Linked DNA regions of Homo sapiens. The protein of the gene in region 2 interacts with the protein of the main gene of each other region in a biochemical or structural test. Each region holds a gene or a part of one and is shown on either strand. Other genes may lie near its edges.

Evidence for each region. The genes of interacting proteins can lie anywhere in the genome.
Region 1: the proteins of THAP12 (region 2) and DNAJC3 form a complex in vitro, tested with the Homo sapiens proteins (2 studies listed by BioGRID).

What each region holds. Positions count from the first base shown.
Region 1 is NC_000013.11:95,672,715-95,680,150, reverse strand, and holds the start of DNAJC3 (dnaJ homolog subfamily C member 3 precursor), read right to left. Parts: upstream 3,013-7,436; 5' UTR 2,896-3,012; coding exon 2,814-2,895; intron 1-2,813. UniProt on the Homo sapiens protein: Involved in the unfolded protein response (UPR) during endoplasmic reticulum (ER) stress.
Region 2 is NC_000011.10:76,350,122-76,357,144, reverse strand, and holds part of THAP12 (52 kDa repressor of the inhibitor of the protein kinase), read left to right. Parts: intron 1-1,490; coding exon 1,491-1,527; intron 1,528-4,350; coding exon 4,351-6,281; 3' UTR 6,282-7,023. UniProt on the Homo sapiens protein: Upstream regulator of interferon-induced serine/threonine protein kinase R (PKR). May block the PKR-inhibitory function of DNAJC3, resulting in restoration of kinase activity and suppression of cell growth.

The DNA.
Region 1 (7,436 bases), on a different chromosome or scaffold from region 2:
ATAACTTCCTTATCTGTAACATGAGAATACTAAAGCAGATACTACTAAAGTTTTCTTTCTATTCCAAAAATTCGATCTCATCTAGTGCTTTAGACTTCACTCTTTCAAACGCCTTTGAGAAGGGAGGGTGCCAAAAGACTCAAACTTTCAATTCATGATATATACTTTCTGTCTCTGGATGACAATTAACAGAAAAATCTAGAAGAAAACAAAGGCAAATATTTCAAAATCAGAAAAACACTAGGTTATCTCTTCCCCATCCTGTGCCACTCTTAGTTCCACATTCACTTCTCTCATAACCATTCTCCTTCATTTCTTTTTTTAAAAGTGAATTGTATTGTATATATTTGATGTTTACAACATAGTATTATGAGATATACACACATAAAATGGTTACAATAGTGAAGCAGATTAATAAGAGTGAAGCAGATTAATATATCTATCATCTCACATAATTACTTTTTGTGTGACAAGAGCAGCTAAAACCTACCTATTTAACAAAAATCCTTAATACAACACAATTTTATTAAGCCTCAGGCCTAGCAGTAGCACCATTTGCCTTTCAGAGAACTATGAGATTAGTGAATCCAGACACAATTTATTTGGGAAAACAGGGGCTAACGGTTTGCTAATTCAAGTCAGAGTTCTTACCTTTATATCCCTATCACCAAATCCAGTGTCAAATACATAGCAGACACCTAATTTAACTCCTCTATATAATTTATTACACCAGTGGTTCTCAAGTGTGGTCATCCAGGGTCTTTCTAGAAACGCAAAATTTCAGGTCCCATCAAGACCTAATGAATCAAACTCTGTAAGTGGGGTACAGCACTCTGTTTTAAAAAGCCCTCCATGTGCGATTCTGATGCACACTCAAGTTTGAGAACCACTGTATTAAACCTCCCAGGAAATAACCTTCTTGTTAATTACAAAAAAAAAAAAAAAAAAAAAGTGCTGATTTTTTTTCTCAGCTGCCATCACTTAAAAGTGCTTGGACTCACATGATGTTGTCAACTACTTAACTTCTGTCTCCAGCGTGCACACAAAATGAACTTTAGTAAAACCTTTGGAGCCTCAGTTCCCTGGTCTGTAAAGTAGGAATGAATACCACACGCTTTCGTGAATAAGATATGGCTTACAGAAAGGCTCCTTTCTTTCCTTTTTCTGTTACCTGTACTAAGTCCCTGCTATTTTACACAGACAATGGTCCTAAAGAAGACACTCTGGCACTCCTCTGAGAAATGTCACCAGTGCCTCCTACACAGAAAAGCTCTCAAATGTGGTTTTCTTATGGAAAATACCACAGGAGGGAAATGAAGAGTTAAGAGTCCTTACAGACTCATATACAGAACAGCAATTCTAAAAAGTAGTGGGAAAAGCAATCATTCAAAATTGTGCATCTCTGTAACTTAAAAAAAAAAATCACCATTAAACAGAACATAGGCAACTTTCTCTTAAGTGTCCAAAATAAATTATTAATGATAACTGGAGATAAATACTACAGATGAGGGATGGTGGGGTGCGGGGGCAGGAGGAATGAAGCTTTTGAAAATGCAAAAGAACTAGAATATATGACCCATATTAAAGTGGTACAGACCTTCAAATTCCAATCCCCTAGATTTTTCTGGGGGCAGCCTCACTGTCAAATTCTTTGTCCCAATGTTGCCACACTACGTGTTCTGATTTGGGGTTCAAAAAATATGGTTACCAGGGGAAGCAAAAGCAAAAGCCCATTGCTATGGGTGACACCTAAAAACTGGGGAGTACTACTTTAAAAAAAAAAGTTGAGAACTTTCAGAAGAATTCACTATAAACAATTCCCAATTTTTAGTTCCTCGCTCCCTTTGAATGGAATACTCAAAGGTTTAATTTGACCTCCTTGACAACTAGCCCTTTTTATGGGGATGAAAATAGATCAGTGCATGTGATGTGTCATTACACTCGAATATTTCGCACAGTAACCGCGCCAGAAGCATTCGTTAAATCGGCACTATCAACTTTAATTCTTACTCCTCCCCGCTGCCATCTAAGATAGGACAGCCCTCTATTTTCGCTATTCTGGAGTAGCCAACATTCCAGTCTGCAGGACTGAAGTGAAATTTAATCGTTCGTATCTTTTTAAGGGAACCTTTTTACAGCGAACTTGGAAAAGTAATGCCAGCCATACGTTGAATGACACCATGTTGGGAGTTGTAAAACCACAAACTCAGTGCCTGGCCGTCCGGGAGATGGAATTCCAACAGCGGCTCCTCATTGCACCAAACTAACAATTTCTCTACACGACAGTGCATCTTAATGGGGATGGTTACACACTTTTTAAATAGTCAACACTGTCCCCTCCAACTCCCAGCCGGACATGACACTCCTTCCCCACCCAAGAACTCCAGAGCGAAGGAAGTCTTTTGGCCACCTTAGTGCCTCCTCCCAGCCAGCACCAATGACTGACAGTGTCCCCAGGCGCCCAGCGAGGGTCCCAAGCGAGGCCAGGACCCAAAGGCTGCCCAAGTCTCCGCGTCCCAGGACTTCCTGAAGTCGTAGCCCGGTGCCCCCGCACCCCGCCTCCTCCGACTCCTGCGGCCCGGTTCCTTAGTCCAAACCCGCTGTCCCGGCCCCGCGGCCCGCCAGTCCCCTCGATTCTTCCCCAGACAAACCCGGAACCGGGCGCGGGCTCAGGCCCAAGCCAGGCCGCGGGCTCCCCCAGCGCTCGCCCCACCTCCCGAGCCGCTCCGGGACAGGCGCCCGGGCGCAGACGGGAAAGCGCGGGGGGCCTGGTCCGGGAGCCCACTTCCTGGCCGGGGCAGGGCAGGACTCACCTTCGTACTGCAGATCCACCAGGACTAGCAGGAAGGGGAATACCGAGCCCAGCCGGCTGGTCACGGAGCCGGGGGCCACCATGTCCGAGGGCTCGCGAGTGAAGAGGAGGAAAGGTGTGTGGCCCACCAGCACGCGCCGGCGCTCCGGCAGCAGCTGCGCCCGCCCGCCGTCGGCTCTCGCTCAGGCCTCAGTGGCTCTGGAGCCCAGCAGAGGAAGGCAGCGGTGGGCGGGGCCCGGGCGACGCTACGCCCCAGAGCGCCGCCGCCATCCAATCGCCTTCTTTCTGGCGGCTTTCCTCCCGGGCTCGCCGGGGTCGTGGTTCGCGCTGATAGGCTGCGGAGGCCGCCGCCCCGCCCCGTCCCTGATAGGATAACGTGGAAGCACGAGACGAGGCTGCGCCCGCCGGTCGCAGAGCTGTCAGCAAGCTCCAAACCGCGGCTGCCGCCCGGAGGGAAGCAGACGGGGAGTCGGTGGCGGCCGCCGAGTCCGCATGCGCAGGCTGCAAAGGCCCTTTTGGGCCGGTCCCGCCGCGCTAGGTTGGCGAGTGGGACTATTTGATCCTTTCCAGGTTCGCCAGCGTGGTGTTACGAGAGGAAAGCGCAGCCGCAGCGTACGAATGGGAAGGCCAAACACGGTCCCGGGGAGTCTGAGGGAAGCTGCAGGGCGCCTGGAATTGGGGTCTCGAGTGAGCCGGTAAAAACCGCCTCCCGCTGAGCGTCCCGGAACAAATACTGTCTGAACTGAGCCGTAAGCAAGAAACGGTCAGGAGAAGCTGGGGCGATCTGATGATTAGAACATTTCAGGGACTACCAGAGAGAAGTGCGTAATTGCTCTAAGGCAGGTAGGTAATTGGCCTGGAAACTTGGGAACGCCCCGCCCCCCACCCCGACTTTCAGCAAACCACCGTGCCCAGGAAAAAGAGCGATTGTGGAAGACCCTGTGAAGAAGAGACCAGGAAGGCACTGTGGCTTAAGAGAGCAAGGCGTTCCTGAATGCAGCCAACATCAACTGGTAAACAAAAAACTGTGAGAACGGATCCTGAATCTTGCGCTTACCAGGGGAAATTCAGGAGAGATATGAACCTGAGCAAGATGAGGTTGAAGTTACTCAATGCGGCATTAAGCCTGTTCACGGCCACTTCCTCCGGCGTCACCAACACACACACTGTACACCAGCAGTATTTTTACACGGGGTATGTGTGTTAAGTACTATCAGGTGGATAATTATTACTTCACCTGTATTTGCTGCCTTGATACCATTAGAGAAACTCATGAATTATAAATAGCATAGTGAATTTGTGATTCCCTGAAGATATACTAAGGTGGACTTTTAAAAAGGCTTCTATTCCAAAGGGAACTAATATGGAGGAAATGGTTTCGAGAAAGAAAAAAGAAAAAACGGAGTCCTTGATTAGTTGTGGGGAAGGCAACATAATGTAATGTGAAGAATAAAGGAGTCAGATCCAGGAAACCCCATAACTATTATGTAAGTTATCTTCATCTGTAAAGTGGTTAGGATCCTGATAGTCTCAAAGGTTTGTTTTGAGGTTTCATGAAGCAGATAAATATTCTTGTAAATTGTAGAATGTTATACCAGTGTTACTCATTATTCTAACAAGAGCAGAGTAGTGAAGAGAGGCTCCTTCAGAAATTCCTTGGGATTTTTTTTTTTTTGGCTTCTGTTTTTTTATATCACAAGGTAGTGTCTCTGAAAAATGGTAGATGATTTCAATGTCCACAAATATGCAGGTGTAGACATTCAATTGAGGTACTGTACCCAAGGCAGCCAGCAAAATGCTGAACATAGAAAATAACTTTGTAAACAAAATGCAATATTTCTAGACAGTGAGTTATCACCAGTGTGCTGCCTATGACCCTGGCCTTAAGGAAAAAGTAGCAGAGCTGAAGAAGTTCTAAGGATGGAAATTAAAAATTATTAAGGAGATAATAGACTTCGTGTTATAGGAAATAAAAATAGCAAGGGTCTTCAATGGTGAGTGATTTTGAGATTAATTACATAACTATGAATTCTGTAATATTAGAACTAAGCTTTACAAAGCATTCCTTAAAAAAAGATAATTTTACAACAAAGGTAACATTAGACAGAAAAAAATGTACAAAACTAAAATTAAGTGATTAATGCTTGGGAATGTTTCCTCCAATGTTCATCTAGTCATGGTTTTCACGAATCACTCTTGCCAATAAAACCGAAAATCAAAGTAATCTAGTGAGTGTAAGAAAAGTTACTGTAAATATGTTTGCATTCGTCAGACTCTATGGAGTCTTTTTGAAGTTAAACATTAAATCTCCACTGTAATTCATACTGTTAATTATAGTAGCAAAAGACTTAAAAAACAATGGTAGCATATTTATGATATATCCAAAATTAAGAGTATTATGCAATTTTTATTAGGTTGATCTATGTTTATTGACTAGGAAAAACAATGTTGGTAGAGAGGAGTGAACAGATCTAGAACATATTTTGTAGGTAAAGGGAATAAGATTTGTTTAGGAATTAACTATGAGGAGAAATAAATGTTCAGAAACAAGTAGAGCACTTATAAACACCTTTTTGTGCCAAATTAAGAACAAAAAAGTCAGCATTAAGTTAATGCCACCATATACATCCTTCCACATTTATGTTTACAAACTTGTGCTTTTATTTCTAGGAAACATTTCTAGGCTGGGCGCAGTGGCTCACACCTGTAATGCTAGCGCTTTGGGAAGCCAAGATGGGAGGATTATTTGAGGCCGGGAGTTTGCGACCAGCCTGAGCAACATAGCAGGATCCTGTCTCTGCAAAAAAATTTAAAACTAGCCAGGTGCGGTGGCTCGTGCCTGTTGCCCTAGCTACTCAGGGAGACTGAGGCAGAGGATTGCTTCAACCCAGGAGTTTGAGGTTGCAGTGAGCTAAGATCATGTCACTGCACTCCAGACTGAGCAACAGAGTGACACTTTATAAAAAAAAAAAAAAAAAAAACTAGGTTTTTGAACTTGCTTAATCAAAGAATTTGTTTAAACTTTTAAGATGCGTTGTCAGATTATCTTTCCCTAAAGGAATAATTTCTATTCCTATCAGCTGTTTATATTCCTGCCTAGTCACCATCACTAGATATAATTGATTTTCAGTTTTTGCCAATCTGAGGAACAAAAAATGACCCTTATATGTCAAATTTACAGTTTATTTTCAAGGATTTTGGGATTCTGATCAAATTTTGGTACCTTCATATAAAATTTGGCTTTTATATCACATCTTGTCTTCTCTGCTTTCCACCCTCTTTTATGTTGTTTTTTGGCTTCTGGCCGCATGACTATAATCTCCGCTTTTGTATTCACATCACCTTCTGTCATTTTTGACCTTGCCTCCGTCTTACAAGGATCCTTGTAATTAATTATATTGGGCCTGCTGAGATAATCCAGGATATTCTTCCTACTCAAGTTCCTCAATTTAATCACATCTGCAAAAACTGCCTTTTGCTATAGAACAATGACAGGAGATTAGAATGTAAACATATTTGGGGGACCGTTATTCAGCTTAACACAATACGTCCCCCTTCATCAGGTGGAGCTTATTTTCCCTCCTTCCTTGAGTGTGGGCTGGACTTAGTGACTAACTTCCAAAGAACAGAGTATGGAAAGGGAGGAGGAGAGTAACTTCATAGTACAGAAACCTGGAAACACTGTCTTGGCCAGGTGGTCAAAGTTAATATCATCAAGTCATGTTGATAGCATATACTCCCAATATACTGTGATGAGAAGGGCAATTCACCTCTGTGGTATTCTCAAAACCTATAACCCAATCTAGTCTAAACATGAAAAAAAAAAAATCAAACTAAAATTGAAGGACATTCTATAAAACACCTGATCAGTATTCCTCAAAACTATCAACGTCGTGGGGAACAAGGAAAGATTGAAATACTGTAACAGACCAGAGGAAACTAAGGAAACTTAATTGATGACTGAATGCAGTGTGCTGTGTTGAACTGGATCCTAGAGAAAATAGACATTAGTGGAAAAACTACTGAAATATGAATAGTCTCAAGTTTAATAGTAGTGTACCATTATTACTTTCTTAGTTTTGACAAATGTACCATGGTTATGCAAGATGCTAACAATACAGAAAAATAAGGGGTATTTGGGACCTCCCTGTATTATCCTTATGCCCTTACTTGAAAGTTGTTTCAGCAATAGAAGTTTATTTAAAATATTGTGAAGGGCCTGAGTATTTTTAAATCAACTGCAGTGACTCTCTTTTGTGTATTTGTGTACAGATGAGTTTTTCTGCATCGAATTTTATCTCCTTTCCTTGCAGAAGAAAGAGAATTAGCCCTTTACAGAGATAACAGTTGCCTAAGCCAGCTCTTTTCTCCTCTTTTTGATGTTCTTCTTTTTCTCTCAGTTTGAAAATTGTAGGTTATTTGAGTTTTTAAAATGTCTATTGCTACATACACATTCTAGTTATATTCTAGTCCAAACAATCTAGTAAAATATCTAAAAGAAAAATGCTGTTCACTGTATTTTTTATTTTTAAAATGTGAGTGAGTGCATTTAAATAATAGGTTGTGTTATTATAATTATGAGCTAAAAGTTTTGAAGTGTGATTTAAAGAGTCTTTAACATTAC
Region 2 (7,023 bases):
ATGTAAATAGTTGTTCTGTTACATTGTTTAGAGAATAATGACAAGAACAAAAATCTGTGTGTTCAGTATAGACACAACCATCCTTTTCTTTTTTTTTTTTTTGAGACAGAGTCTCGCTCTTGTTGCCCAGGCTGGAGTGCAAGGGTGCGATCTCAGCTCACCGCAACCTCCGCCTCCCGGGTTCAAGCAATTCTCCTGCCTCAGCCCCCCGAGTAGCTGGGATCACAGGCATGTGCCACCACGCCCGGCTCTTTTTGTATTTTTAGTAGAGACGAGGGTTCTCCATGTTGGTCAGGCTGGTCTTGAACTCCCGACCTCAGGTGATCCTCCCGCCTCAGCTTCCCAAAGTGCTGGGATTACAGACGTGAGCCACCATGCCCGGCACAACCATCCATTTTCAAATAATACCTAGATTATTTATGATACTTAATACATTTATGTGTTTGTAACACCTACTACAATGTAAATGCTATGTAAATAGTTATGCTACGTTATGTAGGGGAAGAATGAGAAAAAAAGTCTGTACATGTTCAAGATAGATACAACCATCCATTTTTTCCCCAGCATTTTCAATGCATGGTTGGTTAAATCCATAGATATGAAGTGTAATATGTATCAGGATGAGGAGCTCAATCACTTGCTGTCCTGTAGCTATCATTTCCCTGTAGTCTGTCCCTCAGAGAGCCTCACATATCTCACAGCAGGCATACTCTTCCTGACCCACCATCCTTATAAACGTGCAGTCCGTAGGATAAGGAGGGGATGTCCAGGTTGACCAGCCTGCTGATGTTTCTTGTTATCAGCACCATGTCCAGTGCTGCCCAACAGGCATCCTGCTGTCTTCAGCTGTCACTGGCATTGCTGCTTTTCTGCCACAGAAAGTAACAGGTGGCTCATGATTTAAGCATTGTAGAGGGTTGGAAGGAAAGTAAAGGATGCAGCTGGAAAGTTCTTCCTTTGTCTAACCCTATTGGTGCCACTTGGCCTACTATGCTCTGTGTATGCTCTGTGTATCTCTTCCATGCTGGTACTTTCACCTTCTGCTTCTCAGGGATTTCTCATCACTTTTGTGTTGAGTCCTGAGATTCAGCAACCTCCTTCTTATGGGACATCTCCAGGGTTAAATTGGGAAGTAAGATGATTTGTGTCCTCTTGAATTTAACTCCAAGTGCCATGGTGTATTTTTGTGCCTTTCATTAGCCAGTAAACACTTATAACCCAAAGTTACGATGATTTAGGTAGAAAATAAGCAAAATGATGTATTCTTTTTTCCCTAAGACTTTGTTATAACCTTGGAGTCATTAACAGCTTATTCTGGTTTTCTCATTGTCTGTTTGTTTGAAGAATGTGTACTATATAAAGAATTTATGCTCTTGAAAGAATTAAATTGACTCAGAATAGGCATTTGTATTTGTGAGTCTAAGATGATACACTAGAGGTCAGTTTTTTAAAGATGATTTGTTTTTTTCTTTTTTTTTCTTGACATTTAGAGTGAAGATGAAATCAGGACACTGAAACAGAAAAAAAGTAAGTGATAGTGTTAATGACTCAACTTCTGAATGCCTTTTAAAAAGGCCTTGACCTGGTAAGGACAAATAAATATGTTCTGTGTTGAAAACCTACCTTGAGAATGAATGTAGGAGTGTGCTCAATTTTGTCCTGTGTTTTGGAATTATCTATGAGACTAAAGTCTAATTTTAGTTTGTCTTTATTGAGTGCTGCAATGCCACACACTATGCTATATGCAGGCCTCATGGAGGTGACGCCTCCTCTCTCAGTGTGGTAGGGGTGGCAGGCACACAGTGCTCCATTGTAGGGAAGGAAGGGCAACAGTAGAGGCATGCACTGAATCTCTTTTTCTGTCCACCCAGTTGTGGTATGTAATAAATTCTTTGTAAATGTTTAAGGACTAAATGCTGTGGGGGCACATAGTGCCATTGTGAGTAGTGGTCACAACAGCCTTTCTGGAGGTGCTGATGTCCGAATTATGTCACCAAAGGACGAGGGCTAGAAGCTGTTTTTCTTCTTGTCAGTTATTAGTTACTCCTCCTCCTCTGTTTCTTCCTCCTATTGCTGTTATTATTAACGTAGCATTTTATTGAGTGCTTACTGATGCCAAATCATTGTTCTAAGTGCTTTACTTGTATTAATTAATTTAATTCTCACAATAGCCGTGAGATAAGTACTGTTATTTCCCTCTTTATGGATGAGGAGATATGGACTTGGGCAAAGAGAGGGAAAGGTATTCTGTGCACGAAACAGGGTGCTGTTTTGGGGAACTACACTCATTTTAGTGTTGTTAAAGTTTGTGATAACCCATTATGGTTAGAAAATAGCCTAGAGAGGACCCCAGAGGCCAGAACTTGCAGACTTGTGGGCTATTAGCAATAGGGAACCACTGAGGGGTTTATAAGTAGGTGATAACAGGGACCTGATTTCCATGGTACATAGAGTACTCTGTTGGATTAGAAAAGGTAACACTGGAGGCATGGAGGCTAGTTAGACTGTCAACTGACCAAATAAAAGTTGAAAGGCCTTGAATTAAGGCAATGGTAGAGAGAGTAAAGGGAATAGATTCAAGGAACTTAAGAAATTTGTATACCTATGACACCTAAAAAGATGTCCAAAAGAAGAGGGACTTGACTTTTCAGTTTGAACTCTTTGCTCTTTAATGAACTTCTTTTTGAAAAAAATAAAAGCAAGAGAATTAGTACTTGTTAATTGGAAGTGGAGAAATAATGGAGGAGAGAGGGAGGGAGCCAGACAGGCAGGCGTCCAGGATAACCTCTTGCTTTCTGGCTTGGGAAGCCTCCCTAGTATAGAACCACTGCTGTGTCACATATAATGAATAGCAGTGTCATCTGATTTGAGGAGGGGTGAAGGAAGGATGCTCCCTGCATTTTTCTGAACCCTTATGAAGCTCTGAAGCATGGCTCACACAGGCTCCGGTCAGACTAGATTTCCCTTTGTACTTGGGCAGCCTGCTTCCCTCTTCTACCTTAGTGCTTGTGCTAGAATAATTCTCACCAACTGAAATGCCCTCCTTGTTCATGTCCCCCTTATTTATCCTTGTCATCAAATGCAACTTCTGAATTTTTGTTTCTCCCCACCGCCCTCCATAGTCTTTTTTCTTTTTGAGACGGAGTCTCACTCTGTTGCCCAGGCTGGAGTGCAGTGGCACGATCTCGGCTAACTATAACCTCTGCCTCCTGGGTTCAGGCAATTGTCCTGCCTCAGCCTCCCGAGTAGCTGGGACTACAGGCATGTGCCACCACGCCCAGCTAATTTTTGTATTTTTAGTAGAGATGGGGTTTCACCATATTGGCCAGGCTGGTCTCAAACTCCTGACCTCGTGATCCACCCACCTCAGCCTCCCAAAGTGCTGGGATTACAGGCGTAAGCCACTGCACCCCCGGCCCTAGTCTTATGTTCTAAGAACTAGGTTTTAACTGTGCCTCCTCAGATTTGGATTATTTTCCTGCAGACACCACTGACCTGTATGACTATGGGCAGGGCATTTAGCCTGTAGGGCCTCAGTTTTCCTATCCCCTGTGAAGAGATTAGGCTAAGATGTGTGATATTCTAATACTAGCCCTAAGAGTTACATTAATCTCCTTTATATTATACTGGTTTGTACAGCTGTCCCATCTCCCATATAAATGTGTGGCATAATGGTTTGATAAAAACAGCATCAGCATGGATCTTGGAGCCAGACGCACTTGGATTTCAACTTTACTTCCATTCTTCTAACTGTATTTGTGATCTTGGGCAAGTTACTTAGTGTCCTTGTTTGTCAAGTGGGGCCGATACCACCTGCCTGAACAGAGAGTAATGTGATGCATATAAAATACTAAGCACAGTACCTTAGTAATTAGTTCTGTCCCACTTTGTTTTTCTGAGGGCATGGACTGTCATTCATTACATATGTGGAAAGTCTTGTTAAGTGTATTTTAAAAATTAGGCCGGATGTGGTATCTCACACCTTTAATCCTTGTACTTTGGAGCTGAGGTGGGAGGATCACTTGAGGCCAGGAGTTCAAGACCAGCCTGGGCAACATAGTGAGACTCCCCGCTCTACTTCTTAAAAAAAAAAAATTATTCCTATCTTGTAACAGCATTTACATCTAGGATTAAAATATATCTCTTTACACTGTTTGTCTCTCCCACTAGGATGTGTCTTATCTTAGTGTCTTATTTTAATCTCTGTCCTAGTCTGTGGTCTAGTAAATACCCTATGAATATTGAATGAATGAGTTTGTGGATTTTAAATATTTAACCAAAGATGTAATATTTTTTGTTGTGTATGGTTTTTCATGAGCCTGTTTGTAAAATTAATTCTTTGTTTTCCAGTTGATGAAACTTCTGAGCAGGAACAAAAACATAAAGAAACCAACAATAGCAATGCTCAGAACCCCAGCGAAGAAGAGGGTGAAGGGCAAGATGAGGACATTTTACCTCTAACCCTTGAAGAGAAGGAAAACAAAGAATACCTAAAATCTCTATTTGAAATCTTGATTCTGATGGGAAAGCAAAACATACCTCTGGATGGACATGAGGCTGATGAAATCCCAGAAGGTCTCTTTACTCCAGATAACTTTCAGGCACTGCTGGAGTGTCGGATAAATTCTGGTGAAGAGGTTCTGAGAAAGCGGTTTGAGACAACAGCAGTTAACACGTTGTTTTGTTCAAAAACACAGCAGAGGCAGATGCTAGAGATCTGTGAGAGCTGTATTCGAGAAGAAACTCTCAGGGAAGTGAGAGACTCACACTTCTTTTCCATTATCACTGACGATGTAGTGGACATAGCAGGGGAAGAGCACCTACCTGTGTTGGTGAGGTTTGTTGATGAATCTCATAACCTAAGAGAGGAATTTATAGGCTTCCTGCCTTATGAAGCCGATGCAGAAATTTTGGCTGTGAAATTTCACACTATGATAACTGAGAAGTGGGGATTAAATATGGAGTATTGTCGTGGCCAGGCTTACATTGTCTCTAGTGGATTTTCTTCCAAAATGAAAGTTGTTGCTTCTAGACTTTTAGAGAAATATCCCCAAGCTATCTACACACTCTGCTCTTCCTGTGCCTTAAATATGTGGTTGGCAAAATCAGTACCTGTTATGGGAGTATCTGTTGCATTAGGAACAATTGAGGAAGTTTGTTCTTTTTTCCATCGATCACCACAACTGCTTTTAGAACTTGACAACGTAATTTCTGTTCTTTTTCAGAACAGTAAAGAAAGGGGTAAAGAACTGAAGGAAATCTGCCATTCTCAGTGGACAGGCAGGCATGATGCTTTTGAAATTTTAGTGGAACTCCTGCAAGCACTTGTTTTATGTTTAGATGGTATAAATAGTGACACAAATATTAGATGGAATAACTATATAGCTGGCCGAGCATTTGTACTCTGCAGTGCAGTGTCAGATTTTGATTTCATTGTTACTATTGTTGTTCTTAAAAATGTCCTATCTTTTACAAGAGCCTTTGGGAAAAACCTCCAGGGGCAAACCTCTGATGTCTTCTTTGCGGCCGGTAGCTTGACTGCAGTACTGCATTCACTCAACGAAGTGATGGAAAATATTGAAGTTTATCATGAATTTTGGTTTGAGGAAGCCACAAATTTGGCAACCAAACTTGATATTCAAATGAAACTCCCTGGGAAATTCCGCAGAGCTCACCAGGGTAACTTGGAATCTCAGCTAACCTCTGAGAGTTACTATAAAGAAACCCTAAGTGTCCCAACAGTGGAGCACATTATTCAGGAACTTAAAGATATATTCTCAGAACAGCACCTCAAAGCTCTTAAATGCTTATCTCTGGTACCCTCAGTCATGGGACAACTCAAATTCAATACGTCGGAGGAACACCATGCTGACATGTATAGAAGTGACTTACCCAATCCTGACACGCTGTCAGCTGAGCTTCATTGTTGGAGAATCAAATGGAAACACAGGGGGAAAGATATAGAGCTTCCGTCCACCATCTATGAAGCCCTCCACCTGCCTGACATCAAGTTTTTTCCTAATGTGTATGCATTGCTGAAGGTCCTGTGTATTCTTCCTGTGATGAAGGTTGAGAATGAGCGGTATGAAAATGGACGAAAGCGTCTTAAAGCATATTTGAGGAACACTTTGACAGACCAAAGGTCAAGTAACTTGGCTTTGCTTAACATAAATTTTGATATAAAACACGACCTGGATTTAATGGTGGACACATATATTAAACTCTATACAAGTAAGTCAGAGCTTCCTACAGATAATTCCGAAACTGTGGAAAATACCTAAGAGACTTTTAAAAATAGGCTTTCTTATATTTGATATTTGGAAGAAAAAGCCGTAAGGTGTATGTAGACCACTTAATCACTAAATATCTTTGCCTATAGGACTCCATTGAATACATTAGCCATTGATAATCTACCTGTTTAAATGGCCCCTGTTTGAACTCTCAAGCTTTGAAGACCTACCTGTTCTTCCAGAAGAGAACGTTGAAAGTGCCATGTTTCCTTTTGCGTGATCTCTGTTGATGGCACTCTGGAATTGTTTCAGTTAAGTCATTTTAGACATAGCATTTATTATCACTGTGGATCTCTACTTGTTGGGTGTTATGAATTCTTTGAAGAAATATATTTTGAAGAGGTGTGGGAGGAAGGAATACATTTTATAAAATGTTGTAGTGAAGCCCACAATTGACCTTTGACTAATAGGAGTTTTAAGTATGTTAAAAATCTATACTGGACAGTTACAAGAAATTACCGGAGAAAAGCTTGTGAGCTCACCAAACAAGGATTTCAGTGTAGATTTTGTCTTTCTTGAACTTAAAGAAACAAATGACAAAGTTTGAATGGAAAAGCCTGCTGTTGTTCCACATCTCGTTGCTGTTTACATTCCTTTGTGGAGCCTACATCTTCCTAAGCTTTTTAGCAGGTATATGTTGAACACTTCTGTTTCATGGTTGAGACAGAATCAGAGGCCATGGATACTGACAACTGATTTGTCTGTTTTTTTTCTCTGTCTTTTTCCATGACTC